Homo sapiens: one gene and its partners. The protein of the gene in region 2 purifies or fractionates together with the protein of the main gene of each other region. This does not show direct contact. Each region holds a gene or a part of one and is shown on either strand. Other genes may lie near its edges.

What was found.
Region 1: the proteins of PALM (region 2) and TMEM63A fractionate together in Homo sapiens (co-fractionation; one large-scale study listed by BioGRID). This does not show direct contact.
Region 3: the proteins of PALM (region 2) and SPON1 fractionate together in Homo sapiens (co-fractionation; one large-scale study listed by BioGRID). This does not show direct contact.
Region 4: the proteins of PALM (region 2) and SLC24A4 fractionate together in Homo sapiens (co-fractionation; one large-scale study listed by BioGRID). This does not show direct contact.

The regions. Positions count from the first base shown.
Region 1 is NC_000001.11:225,873,978-225,881,854, reverse strand, and holds part of TMEM63A (mechanosensitive cation channel TMEM63A), read left to right. Parts: intron 1-2,444; 5' UTR 2,445-2,635; intron 2,636-4,260; 5' UTR 4,261-4,274; coding exon 4,275-4,460; intron 4,461-7,487; coding exon 7,488-7,567; intron 7,568-7,877. UniProt on the Homo sapiens protein: Mechanosensitive cation channel with low conductance and high activation threshold. In contrast to TMEM63B, does not show phospholipid scramblase activity. Acts as a regulator of lysosomal morphology by mediating lysosomal mechanosensitivity.
Region 2 is NC_000019.10:724,108-731,984, forward strand, and holds part of PALM (paralemmin-1), read left to right. Parts: intron 1-2,030; coding exon 2,031-2,082; intron 2,083-2,900; coding exon 2,901-2,981; intron 2,982-3,456; coding exon 3,457-3,587; intron 3,588-6,987; coding exon 6,988-7,138; intron 7,139-7,877. UniProt on the Homo sapiens protein: Involved in plasma membrane dynamics and cell process formation. Isoform 1 and isoform 2 are necessary for axonal and dendritic filopodia induction, for dendritic spine maturation and synapse formation in a palmitoylation-dependent manner.
Region 3 is NC_000011.10:14,257,061-14,264,937, reverse strand, and holds part of SPON1 (spondin-1 precursor), read right to left. Parts: intron 7,223-7,877; coding exon 7,040-7,222; intron 5,659-7,039; coding exon 5,488-5,658; intron 5,405-5,487; coding exon 5,237-5,404; intron 4,351-5,236; coding exon 4,186-4,350; intron 2,227-4,185; coding exon 1,963-2,226; intron 1-1,962. UniProt on the Homo sapiens protein: Cell adhesion protein that promotes the attachment of spinal cord and sensory neuron cells and the outgrowth of neurites in vitro. May contribute to the growth and guidance of axons in both the spinal cord and the PNS.
Region 4 is NC_000014.9:92,497,665-92,501,164, reverse strand, and holds part of SLC24A4 (sodium/potassium/calcium exchanger 4 isoform 1 precursor), read right to left. Parts: 3' UTR 1-3,500. UniProt on the Homo sapiens protein: Calcium, potassium:sodium antiporter that transports 1 Ca(2+) and 1 K(+) in exchange for 4 Na(+).

The DNA of each region.
Region 1 (7,877 bases), on a different chromosome or scaffold from region 2:
CAGCCTTGGCGGAGTCCTGAGGAGGGAGGCTGGGGACTCGGGGACTGGGGGGAAGGGCGGGGGCGGAAAGGGTGAGGCGAGCTCTGCTAAGAAACCAAATCCGCAAAGGTTCCAGCACCTGATAAGACTAGCTACCTGAGGCCCTGGAGGGGCCTTGGTCATTCAGCCCCAGGCAGGTGGTGTCCTCTTCAAGGGCAGGGGTGGACAGCGTGGCGGACCCACTGACCCTCCCTTGACACCTCTCAGGTCATCCTCAAGTCTGCTGTGCCTTCAAGGGGGATATGAACGGAAGCCGAGGCTCCTTTTCCCTTCACACGCCCCTCTCCTTTGTTTAGTGTGGGGGCAAAGGTCTCTCCTAGCTGTTCGTTGGGCTCTAACAGAGAAGACGTCAGGTGGGATCCTGCCCTTGTGTTTCCCATTAGCTGGAGGGGCGACTTAAAATAAAGGCAGACAGCTTCTAATTGCTTGCTAGGGCCGGGTCCTGGGCTAAGTGCTTTACAGGTGTTGTTTGGGATCTGTGCCTCCCAACAGCTCCGTGAGAGAAAGTCATCACTCGCATTTCCTGGCGAAGGAAGCCAAGGCACAGAGTGGTTAGGCTGCTTGTCTGAACTGCGTGGTGCTGAGACCCTAACTCCAGAGCCTGCTCACATAATCCCTGAGCCACACTGCCTCTGGTTTCAGCCAGGGGCTGTGTCATTTCCTTTGTGCTCCAGGGTAGGAGGTAAACAGTTGTCCAGGTTACTGGGTCCTGTTTGGTGTTGCCATAAGGAGAAGTTTGTACTTTACTTTGCAACCTTATTCTGCATCTGAAAGACCAGAGTTAGCTCCTGAGGCAGAAGGCCTGGAGCTGCTTGTAGTTTCGCTATTGTCATCACAGGATTGAAAGATTTGGTGATGATAAAATTACCCTGAATTTGTACGGGCCTTCTTGCAAGAACGAACAATATCCATATACTTCCTGCAACATTCTGCTGGTATTTCTAGAGCTTGTCAAGTTGACCACCAGGCCAGTCCTTGCTGCCAATGGAGACTGGCAGTGGATTAGCATAGGTAGTTTACTTTGGCAAATTTAGACCAGCTGTTGGATTTAGCCCTCTCCCACTGGCCACAATCAGACGCTTGCCTGCACATGGGTTGAACTTTGGGTTGGGAGCGTGAAGTCACCTGCTGCCCACTCTGGCTCTTGGGCCTCAGCAGTAATTCTTGGCTTTCCTACCCTCGGCATATTGAGTAGGAATAAGGGGATGAATGGAGAATTTCTGGAAGGCACAGGTAAGTGCTAGGCATTCACATACATCTAGGATGACTGAATATTGCCAGGGGTTCTCAGCCAGGCAGTGCCACTTCAACCACAGTGCCTAGCTGCTGGTTTGGCCTCCTCTATACAGCTGCCAGCTGGGTGCTCCCCTCCCCCTGCCTTCTCCTCAGCCTGGCAGCACTGTCCCATGGTGTCTGTGTTCCCAGCTGCCTGCTCAGAGCGTGCCTGTTTGTGAAAATGCAGAGGAGCTGTCCCATGGAGAGCCAGAGGGACGGAGCTGTTTCAGGGGGATCTGGACTTTATGTGTCTAATGGGCAGGGACAGGCTGGGACTGAGCTGAAAGGTCTGAGAGAGATTGTGGGTCCCCAGAGCTCTACCCTAACCTGGGTGCTCATCGGAGAGGGCAGACAGGACTGGCCACCTGACCTTACCTCCGTCTCAGGCTGATAGTATTTGCTAGCCACCTCCCTGAGTTCATATCAAACTTTGTCAAACCACCCTGGGAAGCCTATTTGGCAAGAGACAAGTAACTTAGAGGCATGACTGGGGCTGGAGGGAGGGGGAAGAGGAGCCGCAGGTGTTTCCCTCCGCAGAGGCCTCTCTCCTCTGCAGCACTGGCGAGGGTATGCCACTCCCAGCACCACCACAGCACCCTCCCCTTTCCAGGGACAATGCTCTCTCTGTGAGCATTTTATGGGGATGTTTTTTCTTTCCACTTCACATTTCAAGCCTTCCTTGTTCATGCTGCTGTGTTCCCTTTTCCTGATTCTAGCTCTTGGGGAACCCTGGGGAGCCTCCCCAGTAGCATTGGCCCTTGGGGCCCAGGTGAAGTCCTTTGCTTGGGGCCCTACCGTGAGCCCACAACCTCCAGGGTTTCTGTGGGAGAGGGCTGCTCCCCTAGACCCAGCAGGTCCCTGAGCCATTGGCAAAGAGGAGAGAGGCTGGGGCCACAGGTGGTGCTGGCCGAGGAAGGAGGAGTAGGGTCGCACAGAGGAGCACTGATGGATGGAGAACCAGTTCTGGGAGTTTGGGGAGAGATCAAGGCAGGAGGGAGCCCACTGGGCAGAACCTAAAGGTCCATATGGGCAGCATGCATACACAGGTGTGTGCTGGAGGGTTTCCATCCAGACCCCTACACTGGAAAAGGGTGGCTCCCATGTGATGCTTGGTGTCTGTGATCCTTCAGGAAAGTCTACAGTTTGGTACCCCAGGACTCGCTGGTCAGGAAAGCCCTGCAGGACATGAGTGTTAGGCCCGACGCCTGGCCCTTGGCAGCTTGGGAGGTGGCTGGGGCTGCTTTTGCCTTTGCCAGAGACAGCTCCAACTGAGGACCTCTCCAACGGGCCCATCCACAGTCCTTCCTTCCCCTAGTGTCTGGTAAGTGTGGGGACAGGAAGGAGGAGGGGTAGGTGGTGGCCTTGAAGTGTTGGGCTGGTGTGTTCCATTGGGTGGTGCCACTGGGGGATTTTAAAGGGAAGCCAAGAACATCTGTGTTCCAGAGGTCACTCTTGTGACACTCTGTTCAGAGTCAGCAGCCCCATGACTCTGGCATCACAACCCCCACTACCTCCAGCCATTGCCAAGTCTCTTAGAAGGTTGAGAAAGTCACTTGGCTGTCTGTGGGATGCTCCCATGTTCTTGGGCTTTCCACTCATTCATGCTTCCTGTGCTTCGTGTGTGTGTGTGTGTGTGTGTGTGTGTGTGTGTGTGTAGGTAGGTAGGTAGGTAGGTAGGTGTCCATGTGTGATTGTCCCCAGCACTCTAGGCCTAGGGGTTACCCAACATACACACCTCACCAGCACTACTGGTATCCAAACATCTGTTTGGGTTCTCTATATCTTTTCTTCTTGTTCTCAAGATCTTTGTCCCTGTAACAGCTAGAAGCACCAGACTTAGCAGAAAAATCCCCTGGGAATTCTAGATTTACCAGATTTGGGCAGGTAGGATCTTAAGCAAGTCCAGGCTGAATATGTGTTCTGGCCCTTCAGCCACAGCATGAGAACTTGGACACTAACTCCCGGTCCTCTGGTGTCAGGGGACAGACACTGGAGATTTCTATTAGCTTCACCAGGGGCGCCAGGAGCCTCAGGAAGGAAAGGTCAACAACCCAGCCTGGAGCAGTGTTTGCTTTGGAAATGCTGGGCCTTGCAGTTAGACTGATGGTACCCAGGAGGGGTATGTGTGTGTGAAAGCGCAGAGCTAGGGGACCCAGAGGTCCCTGAGGAGGCCCTGGGACTCCTGACTCCCTCCCCGTCCCTACCCTAGACCACCCCCTTTACTTTCTCCTCTGTGGCAAAGTAAAAAGAGAAGTGGCATCTGAGAGTCAGGATATTGGGTTTGGGATTCAATTCTGCCCTGACCAGCTCCTTAACCTTAACTTTGGGGCAAGTTATTAAACCTCTGAGGCTTGGTTTCCAAGTATAGCAGATGGACCCATCTCTGAGGTCCCAGCTCTGACATTCTGTGAGCAGTGGGAGTGAGGTGTTGTCTGTGGCTCGTGGATGGACCATCGTGAATACTTGGATGTTCCCTTCTTCCCTGGTTGTTTATCCCGGTGTTTTCCTCTTCCTGCCTTTGTGTGCCTTTCTCCCTCTCCTCTGCCTGTACTCTAGATCCGCCAGTGGCTTCTGCAGGAGTGACTTTCCCAACACGAGTCCTCGAGGCTAGAGGAACTTTAGGACTTCTTAAGACAGCAGCTGCAGCAACTCTGTCCCTCCTTTGCTCCATGTCGCCCCCTCTGGGGATCTGCCCACTGTGTCCTGGATGAGCCATCCACTCTGACCATCTGATCCCCTGAGATTGTCCCACAATGCAGCCATTCTCTGTGGACACTGCCAGGCACGCAGAGGTCCAATGTCTGGCTCTCCCGGACTCCTTGCTGCTGGCTCACTGCCCGATCAGTCCCTGGGAAACGCCTGCCTTTGGCTCTGCCAGCACTGGTGGGAACCTGCAAGAAATTTGAGCCCTGAACGTCTGCCTTGTCCTGTTGTCCTGTGCTCCAGGGAAGACAGGCGCGATGATGGACTCCCCGTTCCTGGAGCTGTGGCAGTCCAAGGCAGTGTCCATCAGGGAGCAGCTGGGACTCGGGGACCGGCCCAACGACTCCTATTGCTACAACTCGGCCAAAAACAGCACCGTGCTCCAGGGGGTCACCTTTGGTGGCATCCCCACTGTCCTGCTCATAGACGTCAGCTGCTTCCTGGTGAGAGCCCTCATGAGTCGTGTCCCACTGCCTCAGTTATTTGTTTAAATGCCCCACCCAGGGCCTTCTGGGAAACTTAGATGAGAAGTCAGACATAGCTGGGTTTAAATCTCAACTCTGCTGCTTACCAGCTCTGTGACTTAGGCGTGTTACTTAGCTTCTGTGCACCTCCCCTTTCTGCTCCGGAAATGGAGATCATAATTCCTATCTCAGAGAATTTTGGAATTTGGATAAGGCCAGAATACTCATATAGCTATGCCTGTGATTACTACCGTGATTGCAGAGCTCTCAGCCTGTCGTATCTTTAAGGCCCTTGGGAAGGGTCATCTCAAGGGGTTGAGACATGTGACTGGAGAGTACGGACTAGAATAGAGCAGCTGCAGTTCCCAAGTGTCACCTCCTGTTCCCCTCTGGCATCCCTGGGGTTTTTAAAGAATCAGAAGCTGGGCCAGGTACGGTGGCTCATGCCTGTAATCTCAGCACTTTGGGAGGCTGAGGCGAGTAGATTGCCTGAGGTCAGGAGTTCGAGACCAGCCTGGCTAACATGGTGAAACCCTGTCTCTACTAAAAATACAAAAAATTAGCCGGGTGTGGTGGTCGGCGCCTGTAATCCCGGCTACTCTGGAGGCCGAGGCAGGAGAATTGCTTGAACCTGGGAGGCAGAGTTGCAATGAGCCGAGATCACGCCACTGCACTCCAGCCTGTGCAACAAGAGCGAGACGCTGTCTCAAAAAAAACCAAAAAAACAAAAAAAAGAATTAGAAGCTGATTCTTAGAGCGTACCTTCAGCAGGTGGCCTTTCTTTAACGTAGATCTCCTTGTTCACAAAGATGCCCCATGGCATTGTTCTTCCTTATGCAGACTCAACGTTGGCTGGCTGAGATTTATTGGGGTTAAAGTGCCCCTTCTTTTCACAAATGCCATGGGCTGGCCAGTGCCTCTTGATACTGTCTCCTAACATGTGGCAGAGACCATCTGAGTGAAGGGGGCAGATGGCTCTGATGGAGTAAACATCCTTGGACTGCTTGGAGCTGGAGACTAGGCTCGGGTGGGGAACATGGGGAGGGTGGCTTAGGGTAGCAAGGAGGAGTGGGCAGGGGTGTGGGGGTGGATTTCAGAATTGGTGGGATTAGAGGAGGGTGGCCTTGGGTCTTCAGGGTGGGGAGAGTTTGGCCAAGGTGAGGAGTACAGAGAGGGGGACCTGGGCAGGGACCCTAGCTGGGCTGGGTGGGTATTGTTGCAACAGTGTTGGCTGAGAAGAGAGTCACCCTCTATTGTGCTGCTGAAGGTGAATTTTTTTTTTTTTTTTTTTTTTTTTTTTTTTTTTTTTTGAGACAAGGTCTCACTGTCACCCAGGCTGAAGTACAGTGGCATAATCACAATTCACTGCGACTTCCTCCTCCTGGGCTCAAGCAATCCTCCCACCTCAGCCTCCTGCATAGCTGGGACTACAAGCACATGCCACCGTGTCTGGGTTATTTTTGTATTTTTGGTAGAGATGGGATTTCACACCATGTTGCCTAGGCTGGTCTCAAACTCCTGAGCTCAAGCGATTCACCAGCCTTGGCCTCCCAAAGTGCTGGGATTACAGGAGTGAGCCATGGTGCCCGGCCAGGGGTGGATTTTTATTGCAGTAAGTTTTGGGGGTGGGGGAGGGGGGACACATAAGAGCCAGAGGGCCCTGGAGAGCATGGGTTTGTGGGAAGTGTCTGCACTGCACAGGCCAGGGCGGCAGCCGCTGTGGACAGAGAGGGCAGGCACCTGCTGAGCAGGTTTCGTGGTTTTCCTACAACATGACTCACCTGCCTTTGAAAATATGTCACCAACTTCCTGATTCACCTGAAGAAAATTCCACGAGAACTCAGTGCCTCTGGGGTTCAGGTCTTCTGGATTTCCTTTAGGAAAACAAAGCCTACCTTCAAAACCCCCGTTTCTGATCAGAGCAGGCAGGGATGTGCTTACTAAGATGTATTTCTCTACCTCCCTGAACCTCAAAGAGAGGGACCCTGTCTAGGGAGGGAAGAGAGGCAGGAACATGGCATGGAGCCTGCCAAGGTGGACTGTGGGGAGTGAGGACAGTCTAGAGTGTACAGATGTCTAGAGCTAAGCGGCTTAGTCCAGCCCTGAGGTTGCCATTGGACACAAGCTTGCTGAGGTGTCCCAGCTTACGGAGGCCAAGCCAGCCCGAGCACAGGTTCTCGTGGTGCCTTGCTGCCTGCATGCATGCTCTCTGCTGGGGGATTGCAGGGCCTGCGGGGCCTGCCTTCAGGGGAATCAAACTCAGAGGAAAAAACTGACCGTTTCTGGCTCAGCCTGAGGAGGCTCTGCTACCTTGGTTCTGTAATTTAAAATGAAATTTTCTGGCCAGCATGGTGGCTCACGCCTGTAATCCCAGCACTTTGGGAGGCTGAGGCAGGTGGATCACCTGAGGTCAGGAGTTCGAGACCAGCCTGACCAATATGGTGAAACCCTGTCTCTACTAAAATACAAAAATTAGCTGGGTGTGGTGGCGGGCACCTGTAGTCCCAGCTACTCTGGAGGCTGAGGCACAAGAATTGCTTGAACCCGGGAGGGGAAGTTGCAGTGAGCCGAAAGAAAAAAATTTTCTGTAAAGTGAAGAAGGATGCTGGTTCCTGGGGCTGCTCTGGGGCCAGACCTTACCCTCCTGCTCGGGGCCACTGAAGGCAGAGCAGGGCCCGAGACTGGGCCTTGTGGTGTTACCGCTGCCTTGAGAGCAAGAGACAGGGCTGACGTGCAGAACTAGGCAGGCTCCAGGCAAGCTTGGCGTCAGCGCTGGCAGCCTTGGTGGCGTGGGCACAGGTGACAGGAGCCTGGTGAAGGGGGTGAGCAAAGCATCCGGGCTACTGAGCTGCATGGCCTTGGGCACTTCAGTGCCCTCTCTGGGCCTGGGTGTTTTCCTTCTAGCCCTGCTGAGTGCGGGCAGGTGGGCTTTACCCCTGAGACCGCTGTGTCTTCTAATGAGAAGCCATCCAATATGCTTTTACTTGGTTTCTTTTCTGTTTTTAGTTCTTAATCTTGGTGTTTTCTATTATAAGAAGAAGATTCTGGGACTATGGCCGCATTGCCCTGGTGTCAGAAGCAGACAGGTAAAGACATATCGCCTAGGCTGTGAGCATGCGTGTGCGTACGTGTGAGTGTGTATATGTGCGTGAGTGTGTATATGTGCGTGTGTGCATATATGTGTGTATAGTGTGTGTGTGTGTGTCCCTGGAATGGGCTAGGGGCTTATGAAGCCCTCCATGTGGGCAGGACCCACACATGACACTGCTATGAGATTGTGTTCATTAAGTGTATCTACCTGGCCTGTACCAATAGCTGTTCTCTTTGCTCTTCACCACAGACCCATGAGGTCAGCCTCGCTACCCTCATTGTGCTCACAAAACAAAAAACAAAAAC
Region 2 (7,877 bases):
TGCAGGGCGAGGTTGCTGTGGGGAGGTCAGAGAACCACAGAATTCCTCGGTTCTTTCCTGGGCGAGTGAGCGTGTGGTGGGTGCCTGGTGGGGGTGGCGAGGGCTTCGGTTTCTGGACCTCCTTCCCACACCACAAAGGGCCCTGTATCTTTGAAGCCTGAAGCCCGGTCCCTTCAGGCGTATCCGGCAACAGTGGTATTCATTCATTCATTTATTGTTTGTTTGTTTGTTTGAGGTGGAGTCTTGCTCTGTTGCCCAGGCTGGAGTGCAGTGGCGCGATCTCGGCTCATGCAACCTCTGCCTCCTGGGTTCAAGCCATTCTCCTGTCTCGGCCTCCAAGTAGCTGGGATTACAGGTGCCGACCACCACGCCTGGCTAATTTTTGTATTTTTAGTAGAGACGGGGGTTTCACCATGTTGGGCAGGCTGGTCTAGAACTCCTGACCTCAGGTGATCCTCCCACCTCAGCCTCCCAAAGTGCTGGGATTACAAGCGTGAGCCACTGCGCCCGGCCATTCATTCATTTTTGAGACAGAGCCTCATGCTGCTGCCCAGGCTGGAGTAGGGTGGTGGGGTCATGGCTCACTGCCCCCTGGACCTCCCAGGCTCAAGCAGTCCTCCCACCTTAGCCTCCCGAGTAGCTGGGACTACAGGCGCACACCACCACACCTTGATAATATTTTTTATTTTTATTTTTGGTAGAGATGGGGTCTTACTAGATTGCCTAGGCTGGTCTCGAACTCCTGGGCTGGAGTAATCCTCCCACCTCGGCCTCCCAAAGTGCTAAAATTACAGGCGTGAGCAGCTGTGGTTTTGCTTTTGTTTTGTTTTGCGACAGGGTCTCACTCTGTTGCCCACGCTGGAGGGCAGTGGCGCGATCTCGGCTCACTGCAGCCTCGACCTCCCGGGTTCAAGTGATTCTCCCACCTCAGCCTTCTGAGTAGTTGGGAGCAATTCTCGTGCCTCAGCCTCCACGCCCAGCTAATTTTTGTATTTCTTGGTGGAGACAAGGTTTTGCCATGTTGGCCAGGCTGGTCTCGAACTCCTGACCTCAAGTGATCCGCCTGCCTCAGCTGCCCCCTGATATTTGTTAAGCGCCTACCACATACCAGCCCTGGGAGGTGAGGCTACAGCTGCACTGGGTGGGCTGTTTTCAAAAGACAATGATTGGGCCGGGCGCGGTGGCTCACGCCTGTAATCCCAGCACTTTGGGAGGCCAAGGCGGGCGGATCACCTGAGGTCAGGAGTTCGAGACCAGCCTGGCCAACATGGTGAAACCCCTGTCTCTACTAAAAGATACAAAAATTAGCCGGGCGTGGTGGCAGGCACCTGTCATCCCAGCTACTCAGGAAGCTGAGGCAGGAGAATCGCTTGAACCCAGGAGGCGGAGGCTGCAGTGAGCTGAGATCCTGCCACTGCACTCCAGCCTGGGAGACAGCAAGACTCCATCTGAAAAAACAAACAAAACCACAATGATTGGATAAGAGCGAGTCTGGGGTTGAATCCGGACTTGGATCCTTTGCTGTGCGTCCTTGGGAGGCTCGTCTCCCTGTCTGGGCTTTTGCAAGCCCAGGCTTGGGAGGTGGGGCTGGTGGGTCTTTCATCCTCTGTTTGCCCCTCCTGGGGCTGCAGAGTAGGTCTTGGTGGGCAGGAGGGTGCAGAGAGGACTGTCCTGATCTGTCTTATGGTCTGGGCCAGGAGGTGATACACTTCCTTCTTCCCGAAACACCCTTCTCTGGCCTTTGATGCCTGGTGAACTCCTATGTATCCTTGGTGGCCCTGCCTCAATGTCCCCTTCTCCCCAAACCCTTCCTGGTCGCTAGGCAGAGCCTCGTCCCCTCCTGTCCTGGCTTCCTTGGCCGCTGAGGGGGCAGGGAGGGCCCCACTTTACAGAAGGGGAAACTGGGGTTCAGAGATGAAATCCCTTGCCCTGGTTACCCCTAGGGGAAGAGGCAGAGCTGGGATTTGAACCGCGTCTGACGGACAGCAGGGCTCAGTGAACCAGAGCTTGACCTTATCTCCCTCCCGCAGGGTCCTGGCGGCAGAGACCACGTCCCAGCAGGAGCGGCTGCAGGCCATCGCAGTGAGTTTCCGCCGCCCCGCAGACGGTGTGGTCAGGGTGGGGAAGTGGGGGGACCTGGGGTCTCGGGCCCTGGACCTGTCCTAGGACCTGGAACCAGGGCATGGTGGGTGGTGAGTTATTTGCTTGGGAAACTTGGATCCTGCTGACCCGCAGAGAATGGAAGTGGAGACCCCCTGAGTCGGCAGCTCCTGGACCCCCGGCCTCGCTCTGCCTGATGGGTCGGTGGGGAAACTGAGGCTGGCATTCCCTGGAACCCTGCCCTCGTCCTGCAGGAAAATAAACTTTGGTGATGGGAGCACAGATGTGCTTTGGTGCCATCTTGGTGGCCTCTGGCCCAAGAAGGCCCTCTTGGTGTCCGCAGACCCCTCTCTGTGACCCGACCCTCCTGTGACGTGGCCCGATTCCTGGGTTCAAGTGACTCTCCTGCCTCAGCCTCTCGAGTAGCTGGGATTATGAGTGACCGCCACGACGCTGGGCTAATTGTTGTATTTTTAGTAGAGATGGGGTTTCACCATGTTGGCCAGGCTGGTCTTGAACTCCTGAACTCAAGTGATCCTCCCGCCTTGGCCTCCCAAAGTGCTGGGATTACAGGCGTGAGCCACCGTGCCCGGCCAGTCATTGATTTTCGAGACAGGGTCTTGCGCTGCTGTCCCGGGCTGGAGTACAGTGGTGCGATCCGCTGTCACCTGGAAGCCAGTGGGCCACGAGGATCCCCGGACAGAGGAAGCAGGATCGGGCTGGGCAGAGCCTTGTGTGGGGGTGGGGGGGTCTCCGGGACCCCCACGCCCATCCCTGACCCCACCCGGCCCTCCCCACAGGAGAAGCGGAAGCGGCAGGCGGAGATCGAGAACAAGCGCCGGCAGCTGGAGGACGAGCGGAGGCAGCTGCAGCACCTGAAGGTACGAGCGGGGCAGGGACCCAGGGTCAGGGAGTGCAGGCGGCTGTGAGGCGGAGGCCCCGGACTCCTGCCCAACCCTGACCCTGACCCCAATCCCAACCTGACCCTGACCCTGCCTCCAGCCCTGACCCTGACCCCGACCCTGACCCCGACCCCGACCCCGACCCTGACCCCAACCTGACCCCGACCCTGACCCCAACCTGACCCTGACCCCGACCCTGACCCTGATCTCAGTCCTGACTCTGACCCTGACCTGACCCCAACCTCAATCCTGACCCTGACCTTGACTCTGACCCAGACCCTGACCCCCAACCTCGATTGTGATTCTGACCTCAGCACTGATCCCAACCATAACCCTGACCCCAACCTTGGTCCTGCCTCAACCCCGACCCTGATCCTGACCCTGACCTCAGTCTTAAGTCTTAACCCTGGCCCTGGTCCTGCCCACGACTCTGACCTGGATCCCTGCTGCTCAGTCCAAGGCACTGCGGGAGCGCTGGCTGCTGGAGGGGACGCCGTCCTCGGCCTCAGAGGGGGATGAGGACCTGAGGAGGCAGATGCAGGACGACGAGCAGAAGACACGGCTGCTGGAGGACTCGGTGTCCAGGTGGGGGCTGCAGCGTGGGTGCCACCGGGCTGGGTGGGGCCTCGGGGGCCGCTGGCTCCCGGGAGGGTGTGGGCTGGGAAGAGTCGTCAGTGTGCTTTGAGGGAGATGCGTGGACCGGGCAGGCCAGGACCCAACATGCTTTGAGGGGGACGCAGGACGGGACAGATCAGGTTGGGGCATCCACCTGGGTCTGGGGCAGCTTGCTGGGGGCAGAGGCTGGCTGCGTGGCCTCAGGCAGGGAGATACCCCTTTCCCTTCCCACCGCCCTCGTTTGAGCCAGCGAGGGACGTGGCGTCGAGCTCCTGGGTCCCTGGAGCTGGCCAGCGGGGGACGTGACGTCGAGCTCGTGGGTCCCTGGAGCTGGGTGTTGCCGGCATTGGCCTCCCTGGGGGCTTCCTGGCGCCAGCCCAGCTGGCGGGCAAGCGCTCCCATGGTTCGAACGGGATGGATGCAGAGCAGCTGGGCCCGCAGGAAGCTCGGGCGGGGGCAGGAAGGGGACAGGATGGGGAAAGTGGCAATCCCTGTGGGGGCTGGGACCAAAGGCCTGGAGTTTCCGGCGGGCGGGAGGCCCAGGCTGTGCTCGGGGGCAGCAGGGTCAGGGTGGAGGGAAGTGACGACCAAGATTCCAAACGTCTGCCCTGGCCAGGGAAGGTGCCCAGAGGCGGGAGGCCGGCCGGATCACACGGACCTCGCAGGCCCTTCCCAGACGCTGGGTTCTGACCCCGTGGGGGCCCCTCCCTGCCCAGTTCTGCCCATTTGCTTTGAAGAAAGCACGTTGGGGGTGTTCGGGATGGACTTCCCTCCTGGGCAGGGCGTGTAAAGGCATGGACAGGCCGGGTGCGGTGGTTCACACCCCTGATCCCAGCACTTTGGGAAGCCGAGGCAGGAGGATCACTTGAGATCAGAGGTTCGAGACCAACCTGACCAACATCGTGAAACCCCATCTTTACTAAAAATACAAAAATTAGCCTGGTGTGGTGGTGCCCAGCCTGTAATCCCAGCTACTCCGGAGGCTGAGGCAGAAGAAGGCCAGGCGCGGTGGCTCAAGCCTGTAATCCTGGCACTTTGGGAGACCGAGGTGGGTGAATCACGAGGTCAGGAGATCGAGACCATCCTGGCTAACACAGTGAAACCCCGTCTCTACTAAAAATACAAAAAAATTAGCCAGGCGTGGTGGCGGGCACCTGTAGTCCCAGCTACTCATGAGACTGAGGCAGGAGAATGGCGTGAACCCGGGAGGCGGAGCTTGCAGTGAGCCAAGATCTCACCGCTGCACTCTGGCCTGGGCAACAGAGTGAGACTGGGTCTCAAAAAATAAATAAATAAATAAAAATAAAGGCATGGACATGCTGGGCGTGGGTGGGGCTCACACCTGTAATGCCAGCACTTTGGGAGGCCGAGGCAGGAGGATCACCTGAGGTCAGAGATTTGAGACCAGCCTGGCCAAGATGGCGAAACCCAGTCTCTACTAAAAATGCAAAAATTAGGTGGATTAGTGGCGGGCGCCTGTAATCCCAGCTACTGGGGAGGCTGAGGCAGGAGAATTGCTTGAACCCAGGAGGCGGAGGTTTCAGTGAGCCGAGATCAAGCCACTGCACTCCAGCCTGGGGGACAGAGCGAGAATCTGTCTAAAAAAGGAAGGTATGGACAGGGTGGGGCAGTTCTGGTGGGTTTGGGGCCTTGGAATGAGCCGAGTGTTACCCACTCCCTGGGCCTCAGTTTCCTCACCTGTGAACCAGGGAGGCAAAAATCCCACGGTGCGTCTTTTTTTTTTTTTTTTTTTTTTTTTGAGAAGGAGTCTCGCTCTGTCGCCCAGGCTGGAGTGCGGTGGCGCGATCTCAGCTCACTGCAAGCTCCGCCTCCCGGGTTCACGCCATTCTCCTGCCTCAGCCTTCTGAGTAGCTGGGATTACAGGTGCCCGCCACGCCTGGCTAATTTTGCATTTTTAGTAGAGACGGGGTTTCACCATGTTGGTTAGGCTGGTCTCGAACTCCCAACCTCAGCTGATCCGCCCGCCTCTGCCTTCCAAAGTGCTGGGATTACAGGTGTGAGCCACTGCGCCTGGCCCCACTGTGCATCTTAATTCCAGCAAACATTAAGCACCAGCTGTGTCCCTGGGCTGGACGGGATGTTCAGACCGAGGTGGGGCTGAGACGGGCCTGGCCCTGTCTGCAGAGAGGTGGATGGTCAGACACCTGGGCGAAGGCAGTGGGAGTTACTGGCCGTGGGGGCTGGGCACACTGGTGTTCTTTTCACGCGGCCCTAGTGGGCACAGGCTCAGGCCCCTCGATGGAGGGTGAAGACCTGGCTTGAGGCCTAGTTTGCTTTCAGAGGCTTCAGCTTCACCCCTCCCCAGGGCAGCCTGCTTCTCAGGTGCTGAAACTGAGCTGCTCTGGGTCTCCACTACCCACCTTCTGCCTGCTCAGGGGCTCTGCCCAGGCACCTCCTGCAGGAAGCCCTCCAGGCTGACTGTGGGCTCCCAGACACCTCCTGCAGGAAGCCCTCCAGGCGGCTGTGGGCTGGACCCCTCTTCTGGTTGGAGGGGACACAAGTCTGGCTCTGTGTCCAACCTGTCAGCCTGGGCCCACCTTGTTAGACTTACGCACTCAGCCCTCGTCTGTCCTGTCCTCAGGCTGAGGCTGAGCTGCCGTGAATGTCGCCCGCCCTTGCCAGACCCCGGGGCTGGGATTTCATATCCCGGTTTTGTTTTCCTGGATCTGCTTGTCCCGTTATCTCTTCTAATACTTGGAAAGTGACATGGTTTTTCCAGTTTCCCTGGTGAGATAAAGTTTCCTGTTAAAATGTGCAAATTTGAGCGGGAAAGGAGAGTTCATTTGATACAGACAGTGACATAAACAGCGCAGGCCAGGGGTCAGGGGACACAGGGAGTCAGCCCTGGTTTGGATCCCGCCTCTGCTACCTGCTGGCCATGTGGCTTTTGCACTCCGTGCCTCAGTTTCCCCCATCATGAAAGAGCACGATGCCTCTTGGGGCTGCCTGGGAGCCTTAAATTCAGAGAGCTAGGCCGAGTGCGGTGGGTCACGCCTGGAATCCCAGCACTTTGGGAGGATGAGGCGGGCAGATCACCTGAGGTCGGGAGTTCAAGACCAGCCTGGCCAACATGGTGAAACCCTGTCTCTGCTAAAAATACAAAAAATTAGCTGGGTGTGGTGGTGCACGCCTGTAATCCCAGCTACTCGAGACCCTGAGGCAGGAGGATCACTTGAACCCGGGAGGTGGAGGTTGCAGCGAGCCAAGATCACGCCATTGCACTCCAGCCTGGGCAACAAGAGCGAGAATCTGTCTCAAAAAAAAGACACTGGGGAGCTGTCGTACAGAAGGTGCCCAGAGCCCCACCGGGGATGCAGGAGTCACCCTCACAGGCACACCCTCTCCCCAGGTTGGAGAAGGAAATTGAGGTGCTGGAGCGTGGAGACTCCGCCCCAGCCACTGCCAAGGAGAACGCGGCGGCCCCGAGCCCAGTCCGGGCCCCAGCCCCGAGTCCAGCCAAGGAGGAGCGCAAGACAGAGGTGGTGATGAATTCACAGCAGGTAAGGGGGTGACTGGGGGGAGCGGATCCCCAGGCACCCACTCCCGCTGGCCCCAGAGCGAGGCCCCAGCCCTTCCATGTCAGCGTAGCTGAGGGGACAGGCACAGACTAGAGCCAGGCACTTGATTTCCAGCTCACCGGAGCCACTTCCCAGCTGTGTGAGCCGGGACACGTGGTTTCGCCTTGCTGGGCCTCGGTTTCCCCATCTGTAAGATGGGGGAGTAATCAGAGCAGCCACCGCTGGGGGCATCAGAAGGACTCAGGGAAGCAGGAGACCCACCTGGGGGCATCAGAAGGGCTCAGGGAAGCAGGAGACCCACCTGGGGGCATCAGAAGGGCTCAGGGAAGCAGGAGACCCGCCTGGGGGCGTCAGAAGGGCTCAGGGAGCAGCAGGAGACCCGGTGCTGGTGGGTGTGGTCATAGTGTTTTTTTGCTTTTGTTGTTTTTTGAGACTCGTTCTGTTGCCCAGGCTGGAGTGTAGTGGTACAGTCTGCAACCTCCACCTCCCAGGTTCAAGCAATTCTCCTGCCTCAGCCTCCCAAGTAGCTGGGACTACAGGCGCCTGCCACCATACCCGGCTAATTTTTTTGTATTTTTAGTAGAGATGAGGTTTCCCCATGTTGGCCAGGCTGGTCCCAAACTCCTGACCTCAGGTGATCCACCCAACCTCGGCCTCCCAAATTGCTGGGATTACACGCATGAGTCACCTTACTTGGCCTGGTTATTTTGTTTCTGTGTTT
Region 3 (7,877 bases), on a different chromosome or scaffold from region 2:
CTAAACCACTTTCTCTTATGCCTTACTCCCCAAGTACTTGGCTCCCAAATGCTAAGTATAGAGAAGTACAATTTTTGTTCTTCCTACTCAGCATAAACATGCTGCTCTCCAAGAAAACTTCCCTGACCCCAGAGATTAATTAGGTTAGATCTTTTGATTACTGCTTCCATAGCACTCTAGATTCCTCTTTTATAGAACCCACCACATTTATGGTTACACATGAGATATTTGTTAACCACACTACAGCTAAGAGTCATGGAGGAATGTACCGTACAACTATGTACCTGCCACATAGTAGGCTTTAATGAATGTTTGTTGACTGGCTGACTACCATGTAGAACAGACAGCACTTTGATATGCAAACAGCTCCCTAATCATAAGGATCCTGAACCATCAAGGAGATCCTCATGCTTCAAAAAGAATAGGCCTTTAAAAATCAGAAAACTTGATGTACATGTTAATCTTCACTTTTTTACATGGGCACCTTCAGCACTGAAGTCCCTGGCAGGCATTTTCTTTTTCTTCTGAAGTCCTGGAACTCTGAAGTTAAGCTGGAGTTTGGGGATGTATAATCTTTCTCTTGGGTTACAAATAAAACCTATCTGGCCTCTGTGTCTGTTTGCCATCCCCAAATCAGTCAACACAGGTCTGATACAGTCACCCTCTTGCTTAAAACCACCTACAGAATCAGGTCCCAAAATCCTTGGTGGGCCACTGGCCTTGTGTGGTCTGGTCCCTGCCTTCCCAGCCTGGTTTCCTGCCTGCCTTGTCCTCTGTGCTTCATCTGCATCCCATTTATCACTTGGACCTATCACTTGGACCTATCATGGTCTTTGGCATCTCTGTGCCTTTGTAATGACTATTCTTGCTGCCTGGAATGTACTTTTCTTTTTTTTTTTTTTTAATTTGAGACGGAGTTTCACTCTTGTTGCCCAGACTGGAGTGCAATGGTGTGCTCTTGGCTCACTGCAACCTCTGCCTCCCCAGTTCAAGTGATTCTCCTGCTTCAGCCTCCTGAGTAGCTGGGATTACAGGTGTGCGCCACCATGCCCGGCTAATTTTTGTACTTTTAGTAGAGATGGGGTTTCACCATATTGGCCAGGCTGGTCTCAAACTCCTGACCTCAAGTGATTGGCCTGCCTTGGCCTACCAAGGTGCTGGGATTACAGGCATGAGCCACCGTGCCCGGCCTGGAATGTACTTTTCTAAGTGGCAAACTCCTCTAGATTTTTCAAGACCCACTCTAGTTTTCCCTGCTCTGACATCTCCCTGAACTCCAGTCAATGTAAGATGATGCTCATTCCTCAGCTCCCTGAGCACTTGGTGCATTGTTCTATTAGTTATTTGTCAGCTTGGATCAATATTATTTGGGGAAATAAAACTCAAGGCTGACATGACACTGCTGATAAACTTCTGGTTAGCCTTGCAAAAAAAAATCATAAAGTCTCAGGCCACGGCTGCCTTGTCTGAGCCACACCCTTAAAATGGAAGATGATGTGTTCTGGGAGGTTCTCAGGAACATTCCCTAAATGATGAACAAGACAAGACTCCTTTGACACATCTGTATCATTTTCCCTCTTTGCAAGGAGTGAATGGTGTTGCTAAGTCATAACTGACTTTGAGCAAAGTTGGACACATTATTGGTTTTATATGTGTGTAAAGAAGGAACTGTAATTCCTAAAGATTCTTTGCTTGAAAATTTATTTTTGGCAGGTAATTAGGTTATCTAAATGTTCTTTGATAAATGACCCCCACCGCCAATCTCCTTTATAAATTATGCTTGCTCAATATTTGGGAACAAACTTGGATCTAAAGAATCAAAATGTGGCCTGAAGACTCCAGAAGATGCAGACTCTCCCCGACTTTTTTTTTTTTTTTTTTTTTAAACAGGTCCAAGACTTAGCCCAGTGCAGAACCCTGCCTGTCCTGGAGACCACCCAGGCTGACACTTGGGAGCCATACCTGGGAACTGCTCCCCTTCAGACTCTTCCTTCAGCTGCTCACTCCGCCGGCTCTCTCGGGCCTCCCTCCAGCGTAGCTTTTGGATGGATGGATTTCGAAGGCATTTTCGGATGCGGCACTTTTTTCGCTGCACAGTCTCTGGGCAGGGTGCACCTCCAAACTGAGGCTCCATTTGGATCATCCGGGTTCGAATCACGTGGCCTTTCCCACATGACTTGTTACATTCCGACCACTGGGACCACTCGGTGAGCTCACAGTCAATGGCTGGCAAGACACAGATGGGCATGAGTGTATCACATGTCTGAAACAAGATATGGTCACGCTCTCCTTTGAACATCTCAACAAGCCTATGAGGGATGCAAAGCAGGTGCTGTGTCATGCTATTTTACAGAAGAAGAAACTGAGGCTCCAAAGAGGCAGGCTGACTTCAGCCCGTGTGGTTGGTAAGCAGCAGAGGCAGGATTGGTGCCAGGTCATCACCCATTCTATGCTCCCTCTATGACTCAAGAAGGCTTTGGAGGACTTTCAGGATGTGTTCAGAGCCTCTTGCCCTGCTCTGTGAACTAGAATATTGTCAGATCAGCCTCAAGTACAGAATAGCTTCCCACAGTCCCAAACTCACTGGTGATATTTTTCAGAGCAAGGCCAGCAAGCCCCCTGCTGCTCTTTGGAGAGAACAAGTCAACAAGCTAAAGGCGGCTGACCCTTGTGGACCAATACCAAGGACATTGTGGTTCTAACACACCCTGGCAGCTTTTCATTCTCAACATCATCCTGTGTTCTATATATGGTGGTCTATGCAAAAAACACAGGAGCCAGAAATGGGACATTCAGTAGAGAAGAGGGTCAGGAGCAAGTGGTGCTTTATGGTTTATCGAGATCCAGTAAATTCTTACTAAGCCAGCATCTCATAAATGTGAAAGGAAAATAACACATCAGTTTGACTGTCAGGATGTGTCCCAGGGAGGTAAATTATTCCAAGCTCTCTGTTGGTCTTGCAAGGCCAAAGTCAGGGTGGTGGACTTAGATGTCCTCATTTAGTTCAACAGTTTCAGTTCTTTTATCCCGCCTGTGGAAGCTCAGGCAGCTTTCTTATCTGCAAAATGGGGATCATGGTATTTTTTTTTTCATTAGGTTGTAAGGATTAAATGAGATGCTCCCAGCCCTGTAAGTGCTCCATAAATTTTCATTTTCTTCTCCCTTACTTCAGTGGACCCCAGGCACTCTAAGTCAGAAGGCTATGGGGCCCCAACTCTGGTGAGCTGGCCTGAACCATGGGCCAATCTTAGTTACTGAAAACCCCAGGCTTTCTCTAGTGGGTGGTCCAAGTTACCTCCACCCATGGCTGAGTCTCCTAAAACAACCCAGGAGCTGGAGCATGGAGCAGGGATTAAGTAAGGCCTATCCTTGCCATGTCCAGTGCTCATACTTTGGACCAATTACTTGGTTTCATCCTCAGAGCAACCTAGGAAGTATTTCCTGCTATTTTACAGATGGAGAAACTGAGGAACAGAGGTGCTGAGTCATCGGCTGAAGGTTACTAGCTAGGGGAGGGAGGATGAACGACTGCAAGTACATGCTGGAGGGGGCCAGAGCCACAGCCAGTGTGCCTGCCCTTTTACCACCCAAAAAAGCAGCTCTTGGAAGACCAGCCAAGGAAACTGGCTTGCTCTGCTTGGAGATTAGTCCCATGTAATATAAACAGCTGATCGCAGAGACTTTGGAAAACAGGACTGGGAGTGGAGCGGGGTGGGGTGAGTTTTTGAGAACTTGGCTTGTTTTCTTGCTGGTTTTCTTACCAGTCTGCAGGAGTCATTGATTTAATGTCCAGCCTCTGGTCATGGGGAATTAAAATGGTCACAGGGAAAATAGAATTAAAATGCTTGGAAAATCCATGGGTCAGGCAAGCCTATAATTGTTGGGGGAGAGGAGGGAAAGAACTAAGGTTTATTGAGCTTTGTGCTGTTTTTCGTATGTGTCTGTCATTTAGACTTCACAGGAACCTTAACTTTGGGTGTTCTGTAGACGGTAGTGGGATTCTCACTTTATTAATGAAACTGACTGCAGTGTTTAAGTAACTGCAAACACTGAAAGCCAAACCCCAAACTCTTCCCCAGCAAACCATGTTATTCTAGGATCTAGCAGTATTAGCACTGGCTGGTTCGGGGCTCCCTGGACTCAGGAACATAGAAGTGATGGGCCTTGAGGAGCTCCAGGACTTACGGCATTCAGGGAGCATGCACTTCTCCACCTGCTCCAGATCCTCATTGCAGTCTCCAAGTTCTGCCAGAGACTTGAGCATCCGCTGTCGGGTTCGCATGCCCTTCCCGCAGGTCACGCTGCAGTCACTCCACTCGGACCATGGGGACAGCAAGCATGGGATGGTGTCTAGATCAAGAACCAGGTTTGCCACTGAGAACAGGTTCCTTTTGTTTTCGTTGATCTCCCTGACCCCACAGTGTTCCACACCGAGTCCCCTGCTTTGGCCCCTGGAATAAAGTGGAATTGGCCCATGGGTTCAAATAAGAGTGAAATCTATGGAGCAAGAAGTGGCTCAGCAGCCTACTGCTCTTCTTTTCACTCTCTTTCATCTCCCTGCTGACCCCCCCCGATGGTTATGACATGAGGGTAGCAATATGACTACATAAGTCCCCACTAGAAAGGCCACTGAGGATCTTAGCAGGGTCTTCCTAGAGACAGAAACATCCCACACTCACTAAGAATCAGGCACTAAAGGAGAGGCTCAGGGATGCATTTTTGGACATTGTCCTGAATTCCCTAGAATGTGTATATACTTGTGTGCCTGTATACATCTGCATACTAATGTGTGGGCAGGCCCATATGCATTTGTGCACAGAGCAGGGGAGGTCATGCTTTATGGGATCAGCCAAGTCCAATGTACAACAGGAGTGGGAGGAGTGGGCTGGACCTGGGTAATGTATGTCCCGCCTAAATGTATTGGCCCTCCTCCCCACCACTGCAAGAAAGACACTCCTATAAAACACAGCTGCAGGTGAATTCTCTATCCAGAGGCCACCAGTTTGCCACCCCAGCATTGCTTAGAATGTCCCCCAGTGGAGGTTACTCTCTCTGGGTCTGGTTGATGTCTACACACCTATGTCTCTCATCTGGCTCCCAGCAGTGCCCAGCAAGGACCATGGGCCATGCTTTCCTCTGCTCAGCCTCCGACCTTTATGGTGGTAATAGTGGATGCCATGGCCCTCCACGCCTGTCCCCAGTGGCCTCCTCCAAGTCCACCCCCGCTCTCACTCACGGCACTCTGGCATCATGCACTTCTCTGCCTGTGATGTCTCGGCTTTGCACATGGAGCCATCTGCGGGGTTCATCTTGATCATGCGGTGCCGCTTCTTCATGCCCATGCCGCAGGTGGCGCTGCACTCGTCCCACTCGCCCCACTCGGTCATCAGGCAGCTGCTGGGAGCTGGGGAGGCCAGCGGCATTGGAGTCGCACCTGCTGCCTCCCCGACCTACTTGCCCGCCTGCCCGCCCGGGGCCCCCACTCACAGCACTCCTCGTTGACCGTGCACTTCTCCGTTTCCTCAGTGGGCAGCGTGCACACGGAGCCGTCCTCCGGGAACTGCTTCACATACCTCTCCCGGGACCTCATGCCCATGCCGCAGGAGATGCTGCAGGGCGACCAGGTGATCCACTCGGACATGGTGCAGGTGGAGCCGTCTGCAACACACCGAGTGAACGCTGCAGCAGTGCACGGTGGCAGGGGCGCCTGCCAGGCTGCGCGGTGGGAACTTCCCGCCAGCGGGAATCAAGAGGAGTCAGGCAGTTGAGGTTGTCTGCACACCTAAGAGGTCTAAATCCTTAAACTGGCAAAGTTCTCTAAGAGGAAATGCCTCTTTTCCAGGTGCATGGGACACTCAGAATTACTCTTTATCTCATGAAAATACATTCGAAAGATGCTTGTATGGAAAGGATGGTGTTTAAAAAATGTACACGCATATATCTAAGATAAGATATAATTTAATCTACATATAATTTAAGATAAATCATAATCCATTTGTATGAGGAACAATCCTTCCCTGTGGAAGGGGAGGTTAAGGACCTCAGCTCCTCAGCTTAGCTCCCCAGTCCCAGCCCCAAGAAAGAGGCTTCAATGTTGACAGGCCAGTCCCAGCTTTCCTCCCGCCTGTTTGTAGGAATGACTTAGTCTACGGGGAGGGTTTACTCCCCTCCAAAGTGCTTATTGTGGGCAAAATGAGCTAGCAATAAACCATCGTGAAAGTGCAACACTGGGAGAGGTGTTTAAGAGCCTCCCTCTAGGCAGAGCCAAGGAATTAATGACCTGCATGGGATAAGCTTGCTTTCTTTATCCTCGGCTTGGAAGTGGTTTTTTTCCCTGCCATACACCAGTCCAGCCTATACAGTGCCTTCCCATTGCCTTATGGCATCCTATAAGATCAGGGCAGAATAGCGTAGATCTATCAGGCAGAGAAAGGGGTCATGGCTTGGGAAGCAGATAGCTGACCTTTGCACAGCAATCAGCTTAGTGCAATCTTGAAGCTTGAGCCATCATGATATAGGTGTTGCAAGATTATACTTAAAGGCTGACCTTTGCACTGTTGCAAATAGACTGAGAATTTCTGCAATCAGCCCAAAGGTCCTGACACAAAGAAGTGAGAGTGCTCTGACTCACGCTGAGGTGGAACACAGATGAGGGGCTGTAAATGACAGAATTAGGGCAATGGATCTAGATTCAATCTGGGCTGACTGTTAACAGGCTCCTTAAGAAGAGATTGGAGTTAAGGCCCAGAAGCAGGCTATGTGTTATCTGTAACTTGTCATAAGTTGTATCTATGTTTGTTAGCTCTTCAGTAAAAGAAGGAGGGGGTGGTCAATCTCAAGAATTCCTTTGATATAAGAGAGATTCTGTGTTCAGAGCCCTCAAGACACTGTTGCAGATAGGAGTTTGCCCAAGGTGGACCCCACTGACATCTACTGTCAGGGTCCTTGTGCCCTCACCAGGGACACTGTCTGACTGCTAGGCAGACCCTCCCTTCCTGAACTCCTGCCAGCCCCTGGCTGGTCTGGGTTGTCTCCTCACCTTCGTCACTGCAGCCAGGGCCCATGCAGGGCTGGAAGTCCTGGGTGTCAGGGCAGGGGACGCTGAGGTCCAGCTGTGCTTTCAGCATGCGCTGTCGCATCCTCTTGCCTTTGTCACAGGTGGAGGAGCTGCAGGCGGACCATGGGGACCAGTTGGAGTAGATGCAGGTTTCAGGGGTGTCATCTGGAAAGAGTGTTTGACATGTTTTCCCTGGGAACCTATGGGAGCTGCCACTGGCCCTCTCCCCATACCAGCTTATCTGGGGACAAGAAAAGCCATGCTGCCAGACTGACTTCAGTGAGCCTGGGTGCTCCTGGGATGGAAGCAGCCATCCACTTCCCTTTAAAGATAATAGTTTAACATCTTGCTAATAAATATCTAATCTAAATAAGCAGAATGATTCTTATTATCCCTTCCTCTCAACACATGAACGTCTTCTCATTTTCAGTCCCTCATCTTGGCATTGTTTCCAGACACATGCAGGCTCATTGTAGGTAATTTTGAAAAGCTCAAGGCTTATTTACATGCCATGGCTTCATCTTCCCAATGATCCCATACACAGTTGTCATGGTAAGAATAAGAGCAGCTGCTATTCATTGAGTACTCATCATGTACCAGCACCATTCTAAGAGCCTTACATGTTTTATCCCATTTAATTCTGACAACTGTATGAAGCAAGTTCTTTTATTATCCCCATTTGACTGTTGAGGAAACTGAGACAGAAAGGTTAGCTTCTTGCCCAAGATCACATGTCTACTGAGAGTCCAGGTTGTCTGGCTCCAGATCCCATAAGAAAACTTGAGCTTGAACCATGACTCTGTCGCTCCCTCCTGATTGT
Region 4 (3,500 bases), on a different chromosome or scaffold from region 2:
AGAGAGAATGAACAAAGATGGTGGTGTTCAGCTCAGCGTGCCAGAACGATCTTGGGGTGACTTGAACAATGTGTGAACAGCCCCAGAAGTTCTTCGTTTTAGTTGTTTTTAAGGAGGTTCTTTCAGGACACAAGAGTCCTCTGATTCCATCTACCTGCTATTTGGTAGGTTCCCTCAGAAACCACACCCAGCCTGCATCCCCTTGGGCTTTGTGGATCTGCCTGGCCTCTCCTGGCTCGGCCCCTTCCTTAGCAACTCCTGTATCTACCCCTGGGCCTGGCTGCATCTGGCTGACAGCCTTTTTCCTCTCTAGGTAATCAAAGCTCTCTTTGTGCTCAGACACCAGCAACTATTCCCTGCTGGCGGCTGCTGGGCAGGAGACACAGGCAGAGGCGCCCTGCCAGGGAGTGTGTGCTCTGAAATGGAGACTCAGCCTCACAGACCAGCAACCCCCACTGTGGAGCTCCCCAAGAGTTGGCCACAGTGGCTCAGCCACAGTTCTGTCCGCAGGGTCTCCAGGTCCCCCAGGTCCAAGCCTCGTGCGGGAAGCTCAAGGAAGCAGACAGTGTGGTCATGGGGTCTGCAGCTTAGAGGGCAGGGATGAAAAGTGAGGGCAGAGATGCCCAGTGGCCAGAAAAAACTCACAAGAACAACTTATTTAGAAAAACAGAGCTGCCTTGTTCACACTCCAGTCATTTTTCAGGAGGGGAAAAGTCCTCTCTTCTTCCATTGAAAGAGGACTGCGCGTCTGTCCTGAATGGACTTGGGAAATTCTGTGTAGAGAATTCTGGAGTGACAGCAAAGAAGGCTCTGTTGTTTGGGACATTCCCTTTAGGCACAAAGGTAGATCACACCAAACCATGCATCTAGAAACCAAAAGCTGCACATTCCCTCTCTTGATAGCTTAAAACATTTGTTTTCCAGTGATGGGGTGATGAGGGTACTGACTCTCTGCAGGATTAAGAATTTTATTGGCCTGGCCCGTGGACAAGTCCCAACCAACATGTTGCATAAGAAGCAACTGCTTGGCGGGGCGCGGTGGCTCACGCTTGTAATCCAGCACTTTGGGAGGCCGGGGTGGGCGGATCACGAGATCAGGAGATCAAGACCATCCTGGCTAACACGGTGAAACCCTGTCTGTACCAAAAATACAAAAAATTAGCTGGGTGTGGTGGCAGGCGCCTGTAGTCCCAGCTACTCGGGAGGCTGAGGCAGGAGAATGGCATGAACCCGGGAGGCGGAGCTTGCAGTGAGTGGAGATCGCGCCACTGCACTCCAGCCTGGGCAACAGAGTGAGGCTCCATCTCAAAAAAAAAAAAAAAGAGAAAAAAAGAAGCAACTGCTTGGGCCGGGTGCAGGGGCTCACGCTTGTAATCCAGCACTTTGGGAGGTCAAGGCAGGAGGATCACTTGAGGCCAGGAGTTCAAGACCTACCTGGGGAACACAGCGAGATCCTGTCTCTAAAAAAAAAAAAAATGAAAACAAATTAGCTGTATGTGGTGGCATGTGCCTGTAGTCCTACCTACTTTTCAGGAGGATCACTTGAGCCTAGGAGTTTGAGGCTTTCGTGAGCTGTGATCAAGCCACTGCACTCCAGCCTGGGCAACAGAGTGAGGCCCTTTCTCAAAAAGAAAAAAAAAAAGCAACTGTTTGAATTCTAGCAACAGTGGGAACAGGTGTGGCTTAAGCCAGCATTTGTCACTGGGGTTATAACTAAGAAGCAGCCAATTCCCAGACCTGTAAATCCAAGGGATAGAAAAGCCACACAGCCAAGGGCTTGGCTTTCCCACAGGCACTCTGTGGATTTTCAGCTCTCAGAGATGCCACCCGTGGCCCTCAAATCCTGGTACCAGGGTATCCCAGCAGCAGACATGTTCCTAGACTAGACGAGAGTATACTGTCAGCCCTGTTTAGAAGCAGGAGGAAGATTCATAACTTTGACAACTGGACACTGACACCGTGAGATTGAATAAAGAGCCTTAGAAACATGCAGGTGAAAGACAACCCGTGCCCCTGGCAGTGTGTGCTTGTGAATGTTTGAGGATTTAACAGAGACTATGGCACCTGGGAGCCATTTGTCATTGAAAAGTTAGGAGGTTTAAAACCCCCATAAAATAACCAAAGCCCTAAAACCTCTCAGCTGGCTTCCCTGGAAAGATAGCTCCACCCTGGTTGCAGAACAGGAGGGAAAAGCCTCTTCTCCTGATTCCAGGTGGGCACCCATTTCCTTGCGCTGGGAGCACAGTGACAGGCTGGACATCCTCCCATTAGCTACCCGGCCTAAAGCTGAGCACAAAACTAGTGTCCCGATTGAGTTTTCTTTATCAACAAGCAAACACAGCAACCTAAATCAAAATGCCTTTTTTTGGCCAGGTGCGGTGGCTCACGCCTGTAATCTCAGCACTCTGGGAGGCCCAGGCGGGCGGATCACTTGAGGTCAGGAGTTCGAAACCAGCCTGGTCAGCATGGTGAAACTCCTTCTCTACTAAAAATCCAAAAATTAGCTGGGCATGGTGGCGCGTGCCTGTAGTCCCAGCTACCAGAGAGGCTGAGGTGGGAGAATCACTTGAACCCAGGAGGTGGAGGTTGCAACCAGCCAACATGGCGCCACTGCACTGAGTCTAGGCGACAGAGCGAGACCCTGTCTCAAAAAAAAAAAAAAAAGCCTTTTTAAAACCTGTACCCTGTGGATATGCCCTTTGGGGAACAGCTCTTTGCAGCAAGGCGAAGGGGCCCCCCACACAAGCCGGGCTGGTAAAGGCTGTGGCTCAAAGCGAACAGCAGAATCCCGTGTTCTCTGTCCTGTGGCACAGGCCTAGAGAAAGACCCCATCACTCTTGTTCCCATATAACTGACACAGTGGGGAAGATTTTCCCAAAGGACAGGAAGGGCCCCTCTCCATGCTTTGAGAAGCCCCAAGGGAGGCTTCATGCTTGAGGGGCTCACAGGATCAGCTACAGAGACCAGGAAATCCTTCGGGTGCACACACATAAAGAGAGCAAGCGCAGCGCTTCAGGCCCGGGGTAGATGGGGGTTGATGGACTTACTGCCACCCAAGAGCTGCCCACAGAGCATTTTCAGAAATTTCTAGAAGTTTCTATGGGCACGGTGTGCTGAAAGGAGGACCACCTCACGTGCCCCACGTACTCCTGCTAACTGCCCCCAGGGGAGGATGGTTCCCATGGAAATCACGTCTTGAGGGCATTAGAGAGACCATGAATATTTAGAGCATGGCATTTGGGTACAATCTCCTGAGGATTTTCACTCTAACAGGTAAGTTCTTTGTTTATTTGAGCCACACGCATTTGCTGAGAGTGGATCACAGGGACAGCACAGCCACCTTTTTCCAGCCAGGGAGGAGCATGGCCCAGAAGGAAAGGAAAGATGGGGATGCGAGACAAAAGACCAACCCCTCCCCCAAGGACCCATTCACCCAGGGCAGAAAGGTCTCTGCTTCTCAACTGCTGAATCCCAGGGGGAAAGTTCCAAAGTGTGGTAAC